Linked DNA regions of Homo sapiens: regions 1 and 3 are each linked to region 2. Evidence: fine-mapped expression QTL. A gene starts in region 2. Each other region holds a variant in brackets. All regions are shown on one strand. Distances are between the middles of the regions. Region 1 overlaps SEMA3F-AS1 (SEMA3F antisense RNA 1). Region 2 holds the start of HYAL1 (hyaluronidase 1). Region 3 overlaps SEMA3F (semaphorin 3F).

Region 1 (2,751 bases), 160 kb after region 2:
CCTCACCAGGCCTTACTCGACCTACCCAAACATCAGAATCATGAGGCTGGGGCTGGGCGTGGTGGCTCACACCTGTAATCCCAGCACTTTGGGAGGCAGAAGTGGGCAGATCACTTGAGGTCAGGAGTTCAAGACCAGCCTGGCCAACATGGTGAAACCCTGTCTCTAGTAAAAATACAAAAATTAGTTGAGTGTGGTGGTGGGCACCTGTAGTCTCAGTTACTTGGAAGCCTGAGGCAGGAGAATTGCTTGAAGCCGGGAGGCAGAGGTTGCAGTGAGCCGAGATTGCACCACTGCACTCCAGCCTAGGGACAGAGCAAGAATCCTTCTCAAAAATGAAAGAAAGAAGAAAGAGAGAAAGAGAGAAAGAAAGGAAGGAAGGAAGGAAGAAAGGAAAGAAAGAAAGAGAGAGAAAGTAAGGAAGAGAGGGAGGGAGGAAGGAAGGAAGGAAAGAAGGAAGGAGAGAGACAAAGAAAGAAAGAAAGAAAAAGAAAGAGACAGAAAGAGAAAGAGAGAGACCAGACGCAGTGGCTCACGCCTGTAATCCCAGCACTCTGGGTGGCCGAGGCAGGTGGATCACCTGAGGTCAGGAGTTCAAGAGCAGCCTGGCCAACATGGTGAAACCCTGTCTCTACTAAAAATACAAAAATTAGCTGGGCTTGGTGGCGCACGCCTGTAGTCTCAGCTACTCGGGAGGCTGAGGCAGGAGAATTGCTTGAACCTGGGAGGCAGAGGTTGCAGTGAGCCCAGTGCACTCCAGCTTGAGCGAGAGAGTGAGACTCTGTCAAAAAAAAAAAGAAAAAAGAAAGAGGAAGGAAGGAAGGGAGAGAGAGAGACAGAAAGAAAGAAAGAAAGAAAGAAAGAAAGAAAGAAAGAAAGAAAGAAAAGAAAAGGAAAGAAAACAAGGAAGGAAGGAGGGAGGGAAGGAATGAGGGAAGAGAGAGAAAGAAAAGAAAGAAAGAAAGAAAGAAGAAAGAAAAAGAAAGAAAGAAGAAAGAAAAAGAAAGAAAGAAAAAGAAGAGAGGAAGGAAGGATGGAAGGAAGGAAGGGCCGGGCGCGGTGGCTCATGCCTGTAATCCCAGCACTTTGGGAGGCCGAGATGGGTGGATCACAAGGTCAGGAGATTGAGACCATTCTGGCTAATACAGTGAAACCCTGTCTCTACTAAAAATACAAAAGAATTAGCTGGACGTGGTGGCGGGCACCTGTGGTCCCACCTAATCTGGAGGCTGAGGCAGGAGAATGGTGTGAACCCTGGAGGTGGAGCTTGCAGCGAGCCAAGATTGCGCCACTGCACTCCAGCCTGGGCGACAGAGCGAGACCCCATGGAAAGAAAGAAAGAAAGAAAGAAAGAAAAAAAGAAAGAGAGAGAGAGGGAGGGAGGGAGGGAGGGAGCAAGGAAGGAAGGAAGGAAGGAAAGAAGGAAGGAAGGAGGGAAGGAGAAGGAAAGAAAAAAAAGAGAGAAGAAGGACTCACGAGGCTGGGGCTGGGGGTGCATGTGCA[C/T]GCATGTGCATGGACGCCTCCTGCAGGCCCCATGATGGGCCCCAGCTCCAGGCCTGGCTGTATGAGGCTCTCACCCTCCCATGGGTATGCACTTGCCCCCAGTTTCCTCAGCTGTTAAATGAGAGCAAGTTTCTTCCTCACAGGGTGCCGAAAGGATCAAACTAGCCACCGAGCACAGATTGCCGGAGCAGCATCTAGTGTGTAGGGCGCAGGCTCCCTGAGTCACCTTTGTTATGACTTATCAGCCCTCCCCGGTAGATGACAGGGAGACGTAGACGCCATCACTGGGGCACAAGAGACTGTGGAATTGCTCTGTTGCGGCCCCAGGAGAGAGTGGGGGCGCATTTATCTTCTCATCCAACCGAAGGGTCCACTCAGGTTGGGGCAGTCCTCAACTGCCCAGCCTTGACCCTGTCTTCTGCCATTGCTTCTGATCTTTGGGCATCCAGGCCTGCATGGTGGCCCACCTAGCACACACGTTACACCCACCGGAGCCTCCACAGGCAAAGACAACATTACTGTCCTCCGCAGGACCAGGGCGGGTGGAGGAGGGACCAGCACGTGGGTTGTCAGGGGAATGGCAGGCCACCTGGGTCTCCTGGGCCCCCACCTCTCTCCTTCCTTAAATAGGACAGCCCCACTCTGGCTCTCCCACTCTGGCTCTGACCCCAACACCCAGCCCACAGTTCCTGTAAACAATTATGCACCAGGAGCTGTAGGGCAAGAAGATGAAGCCCCAGGTCAGCAGGGAGGTGTCCGGGTGACGGGGTGCAGAGGGTGCCCTGGGGCTGAGAGGGTGACTGAAGGAAGGCTGCCTAGAGGAGGTGACACTGCTGCTGGGCCTTAAAGGACGCATCACAGATATCCTGTCCTGAAGGATGAGTGAACAGTGGTGGGAGAGCCTGGAGGCATGCCCTGCCATGGTGTGTCCTGGAGGCCAGAGTGTGGTGCTGTCTGGGGCAGGACTCAGGCAGCTTCACAACCTCCTAGCGATGGGTGATAGGGTGAGGGCAGCGGCAGTGGCACATGAGCTTCACCTGGGCTGGCTCTTCCAAGGGCCAGGGGGGCCTGGACGGAGCAGCAGAGCAGCAGAGTGAAGGCAGACGTGGGCCCTCGAACAGTCCTTGGGGAGGACCCAGCCGGAGGTGCCTAGGCTAGGTGGGCAGGCTCAGCTGGCCCCAGGAAGCAGAGCTGCACGGAACCAGGGGCTGGGGCTGGGCACTGCTGGAGACTGCCAGCCTGGGGGGC
Region 2 (2,748 bases):
TCGCACCACTGCACTCCAGCCTGGGCGACAGAGCGAGACTCCGTCTCAAAAAATAAAAATAAAAAAAAAACAGAAGTACATAAGCTCTGTCCAGAGAGGTGGAGACAGCTCAAAGCACGGCCCCCCACTGGGGGCTTCCAGGTCACAGGCAGGTGACAGACAGATGGTTGCATTCTTTTGAGTTTCTGGTAGTCTTTCCAAAAGAGGCAATGGAGGCAATCATAATATGCATCTATGTCTGTAAGCAAAAGGATGACTTGAATAGAATGGGAGGCAGATTTGTCCTGAGCGGTTCCCAGCTTGAAGGGGCCCAAGATATTTTCCTTTCACATATTGAACAAGTGAAACCACAAATGAATGAACAAGCATGTGCTCACTGACAGCTCATATGCATGGTCACACAAACACAGGATCTCATGCTCACAAGACAGCAGGGCTCACACACACCCAGTCCCAGGCACTGGGTTCCACACTCACACCTACTTGCCACTGGAATTTGTGCAGAGGCTCAGATGGTCACTAAATGGGGCTTCACAAAGACACAGTCACTAACCCAGCACATATACAAAGGGTGATGACACAGCCCTGACTTCATGAACACAGTGCCTTTCAGAAACAGGTCCCTACAACAGGGATGACTTATCCACTAAGCACAATAGACCCAAGGCCTAGGGCCACAGTACTTTCAGGGGCCCACAAAATGTTTTTTTAATCAGAAGAAGAATATAAATGTAAATATATTAATAATTAATATATAATAGTGTAACCCAGACATGACCTCCTGGGCTCAAGCACTCCTCCTGCCTCAGTGTCCCAAGTAGCTGGGACTACAGGTACATACCACCATGCCCAGCTAATTTTTAATTTTTTTGTAGAGATGGGGTCTTGCTACATTGCCTAGGCTGGTCTCGAACTCCTGGGCTCAAGCAATTCTCCCACCTCAGCCTCCCAAAGTGCTAAGACTATAGCCATATATATATATATATATATATATATATATATATATATATATTTTTTTTTTTTTTTTTTTTTTTGAGATGGAGTCGCTCTCTGTCACCCAGGCTGGAGTATAGTAGCACAGTGGAGCAGTCTTGGCTCACTGCAACCTCTGCCTCCCGGGTTCAAGGGATTGTCCTGCCTCAGCCTCCCGAGTAGCTGGGATTACAGGCGCCTGCCACCACGCCCGGCTAATTTTTTGTATTTTTAGTAGAGAAGGGGTTTCACCATGTTAGCCGGGATGGTCTCGATCTCCTGACCTCGTGATCTGCCACCTCGGCTTCCCAAAGTGCTAGGATTATAGGCGTGAGCCTCCGCACCTGGCATGCCTGGCCATATTTTAAAATATTTTTTTTAAGGAGGAAAAGATCCACGAAAGTAAAGTGCCTAGGGCCCATCAATGTCAGATGCAGCCACGTGGACAAAGAACACTCCCTGAGCACAAGACACGAAAGAACCCGGTCTCCAGTGTCACAAACAGGCCTGCCCAGCAGGGTCTGCCCCTGCCCACCTCCTCCAGCCTAGGTAAGGCCACAAAGCCCTGCCCTAGTGCTGACAGCGTGGGAGGGGCCACTGTTGGCCCAGCCCCACCCCCAACCAAGATCCCTTTGCCAGGGATTCAGAGGTAGCCCTGATGCCTGGCTGGCCTGGCCTCCTAATCCAAGGCCCGCCCCTTGGCCCGCCCCTGGCCTGGGTGGGGTGACCCCCTACAAAAGCTCAGAATTTCCAGCAGCGGCTCCTTCCTCCAGGAGTCTCTGGTGCAGCTGGGGTGGAATCTGGCCAGGCCCTGCTTAGGCCCCCATCCTGGGGTCAGGAAATTTGGAGGATAAGGCCCTTCAGCCCCAAGGTCAGCAGGGACGAGCGGGCAGACTGGCGGGTGTACAGGAGGGCTGGGTTGACCTGTCCTTGGTCACTGAGGCCATTGGATCTTCCTCCAGTGGCTGCCAGGATTTCTGGTGGAAGAGACAGGAAGGCCTCCCCCCCTTGGTCGGGTCAGCCTGGGGGCTGAGGGCCTGGCTGTCAGCCACTCTTCCCAGAACATATGTCATGGCCTCAGTGGCTCATGGGGAAGCAGGGGTGGGCGAGCTTAGGCTAGAGCAAGTCCTGTGGGAGATGGCAGAGGCCTGGTCTGAGAGGCAACTCGGATGTGCCCTCCAGTGGCCATGCTCCCCTCCATGCGTCTCCCCTGCCCTCCTGGAGCCCTGCAGGTCAATGTTTAACAGAAACCAGAGCAGCGGTGGATTAATGCGCAAGGGCTCAGCCCCCCAGCCCTGAGCAGTGGGGGAATCGGAGACTTTGCAACCTGTTCTCAGCTCTGCCTCCCCTGGCCAGGTTGTCCTCGACCAGTCCCGTGCCATGGCAGCCCACCTGCTTCCCATCTGCGCCCTCTTCCTGACCTTACTCGATATGGCCCAAGGCTTTAGGGGCCCCTTGCTACCCAACCGGCCCTTCACCACCGTCTGGAATGCAAACACCCAGTGGTGCCTGGAGAGGCACGGTGTGGACGTGGATGTCAGTGTCTTCGATGTGGTAGCCAACCCAGGGCAGACCTTCCGCGGCCCTGACATGACAATTTTCTATAGCTCCCAGCTGGGCACCTACCCCTACTACACGCCCACTGGGGAGCCTGTGTTTGGTGGTCTGCCCCAGAATGCCAGCCTGATTGCCCACCTGGCCCGCACATTCCAGGACATCCTGGCTGCCATACCTGCTCCTGACTTCTCAGGGCTGGCAGTCATCGACTGGGAGGCA
Region 3 (2,751 bases), 140 kb after region 2:
CCTCAGGATCGCTCCTGGTGACTGAGATTTCTTCCACAGTGACCATACTCACACAGTTAATCCTCCTGACAACACAACGAGGCCAGTATTGTTCTTACTCCCATTTTCCAGAAAAGGCAGTGGGAACACAGAATGATGTTCACCAAGCAAGATCCACCCATGGCCAGGATGCAAGCAAGACAGTCTGAGCCCTCATGATGCTGCTTCCACAGGGCCACTGCCATTCCCACCTTACACAGGAGAAACCAGGGCTCAGAGAGGCTAAGCCACTTGGCTGAACTCACACAGCTAACACTGGTAGAACTGGGTTTTGCCTTTGGGACCAGCTAGCTCAGCCACCACCATCACCACTTCTGCATTACACCAAATTTAAGCACCCCACTCTCCTGAGTGAGGAGATGGAGGTCTCCCAGGAGTCAAGGACCAGGTACCCATGGCCCTAAAGCCACCTTCTGAGCTATTACCACCTCTGGAGGAGTCAAGGGGCCGGAGGTGCATACACACAGGTGCAGACAGCCAAGAGCCCACTCTGAGGCTCACTGTCTCCCAAGCTGCAGGGTGAAAGATGCCTTTATGGGCTGGTGAGATTTTTATCTTGGCGGTTTCTCTTTAAATTCTTTACGATTACGAAGCAGTGGGGGCTGCCAAGGAACATGATTTACTCCTTGAGCATGCACCAGCTCCTCACTTAGTGCCAAGGGAAGCTGGAGCCAGGGAAGGAGGGGCGGGCATCATGCCAGGGAACCAGAGACAAGGCCTGTGCTGCGGAGGCCCAGACAGTGGAGGTCCCATCTGAAGCTCCACTTGACCTGGAAGGCCACAGCTGAAAGCCCCAGCCCCTGGCCTGGCTGACCCAGGCTGGGCGTCAGGCAGGTTCTCCAGCAAGCACAAGGACCCTGTCTCCATTCTCTCCAAAGACCAATTCCTAGCCAGTTGGGGGATGTGCAGCTTCCAGGACCTCCCAACTCCAAAGCGGCCACTTCCAAGTCTCTCAGGAGTAAGGCAGCTCCCATTTCCAGAAAACTGAAACTCCAGATCTGGCCTCAAGGGATCTGGGCTCAAGTTCATGCTTTGGGTCTTCCTTCCTCCCTCATCCTGGCGTATCCTGGAACACCTACCCTCCCTGGCTTGTGAGCTCCAACCCCCACTGTAGCTGCCAGAGCCACCTGACCCTTGCCCAGCTCCCTGGTGCCACACTGGCCTCAAAGCTCCTGGGCCTCCTCCCCCTCCTCCCCCACCAAAGCCCCATGCCTTGCTCTGGCTGGCCAAGGAGCCCCTGGGGGGCAAGAGCATGTCCTCTAGCTCTCCAGCCCCACCCCTACTCCTGCACCAGGCCTGAGGGCTAAGGCCCCATCAAGGCTTGCTAGAGGCACCTCAACTCACATCAACTCCTGAGGGGAAGTCAACGGGCTGTGACCCTTCCTAACCTCTAACCTCATCATCTCCAAACCTGGCAACCTTGGTCCTCTGATGCCACATGCAAATGATGTGAGCGGTGGCACTGTTCTGGGCTATTGGCCTGGAGGGCTCAAACTCCAGGCTGCTCTGGAACAGGAGCCCTTTCCTCTCTTAGGCCCTGATGTTCCCATCTCTGACATGAG[A/G]GGCCTTCCTAGGGACCCTGCTCAGTGGAAGGGCCAGAGTGATGGAGGGCCGGATTTATAGCCTGGAAATAAGCAAACCCCAATTCCGTTGCTTCGGCAGACAGAGGGCATGGGGAGCCTGCCCAGTGCGACCCCAGCCCTTTCTTTGGGAAACGAGGCTAGGAAGCCTAAACCAGCACTGCAGAATGCTGGAATCTTCCTTGTTCCTAGCTCATGTGAAGGGTCTGTGCCTCCAGCACCACCACCATCCCTGCCCTCCACTCTCAGTCCTGGGACAGCCTCAGGCATCAGGCGGATGCAGGCTCCATCTCAGTCCTGCTCCTGAGTGACCTGGGAAGCCGCTCAGCCCCCGTAAGCCTCCTTCCTCACAGGAAACCTAGGCAGACCCTCTTTAGGTCTTGGAGGGACCATTGCTTGGTTATCCTCATGGGCTCCTACTACTATTTCGATTATGTTCATCTTTCCTGACCTCCCCTGGCAGGGTGACCTTCTGCTCCCTCTCCCTACTTCTGCCTCAGCTTCCCTAGCAGCACAACTGTCTCATGTCATCACAGGGTCCTTCTACCCCACCAAACATCTCTTGGCCCCAATCCCTGGCCAAACCCAGCCCAGGCAGCAGCAGTGTGTCGTGGGGTAGCTTCCTGGGAAAAAGTAAACACTCCCCAGGCTGAACAAAGGGCCTGGCAGGGCCCTCACACCTCCCTGCTGCTGCCACGGAGGGAGGTGGTGCCCCAGAGCCTGGGTCATCTCAAGGTGGGGGAAGGAAGAGCTTTTTCTCTGAGATTTGGCAGTGATTCTGCAGTGTAGGGGACTCCAGGCCCAGGCATGGATGGGTGAAGGAAGGAGGGTCTGTCCAGGCTTCCAGCCCAGGCTCCACTCTCTCAAGAGCAAGGAATGAACAAACACCTCACCTGCTCCTGGAAATCTCCATTTGACCCTCACTTCTGCCTGATTTTGGCTGTGCTGCTGAAGCCCAGAAGCTGGGCCATAGGAGCCCCCCTAATCTGAGGGAACCCTGGGCTGCTTGACCCTCACACCCTTCTGGCTCTAGACCTGGCTGGGGTGCCCAGGCGGATGGGCGGGCAGCAAACCCAAGCCTGGCCCAGTTCCTGCCTTTGTTCCTTTATCTACCCTGGGCAGTGTGGCCCCT

The links. PIP is the estimated chance that this variant, and not a neighbour inherited with it, causes the effect.
Region 1: its variant is the best candidate, but not a certain one, in a credible set for the expression of HYAL1 in lung (TOPMed, PIP 0.68).
Region 3: its variant is the best candidate, but not a certain one, in a credible set for the expression of HYAL1 in left ventricle (GTEx, PIP 0.60).

The regions. Positions count from the first base shown.
Region 1 is chr3:50,140,142-50,142,892 of GRCh38, reverse strand. The region is part of intron 1 of SEMA3F-AS1 (SEMA3F antisense RNA 1); the gene reads left to right. Among named protein-coding and RNA genes, the nearest start is that of SEMA3F, 14 kb to the left of the region's middle. RefSeq lists enhancers at 1,532-2,093, 2,094-2,655. The variant C/T (reference allele first, on the strand shown) is at 1,504.
Region 2 is chr3:50,302,561-50,305,308 of GRCh38, reverse strand. HYAL1 (hyaluronidase 1) reads left to right here and starts at 1,735. Exons shown (of 4, transcript NM_033159.4): 1 at 1,735-1,843; 2 at 2,329-2,748. The coding sequence starts at 2,353. RefSeq lists enhancers at 1,330-1,499, 1,317-2,251.
Region 3 is chr3:50,162,207-50,164,957 of GRCh38, reverse strand. The region is part of intron 2 of SEMA3F (semaphorin 3F); the gene reads right to left. Among named protein-coding and RNA genes, the nearest start is that of SEMA3F-AS1, 7.5 kb to the right of the region's middle. The variant A/G (reference allele first, on the strand shown) is at 1,602.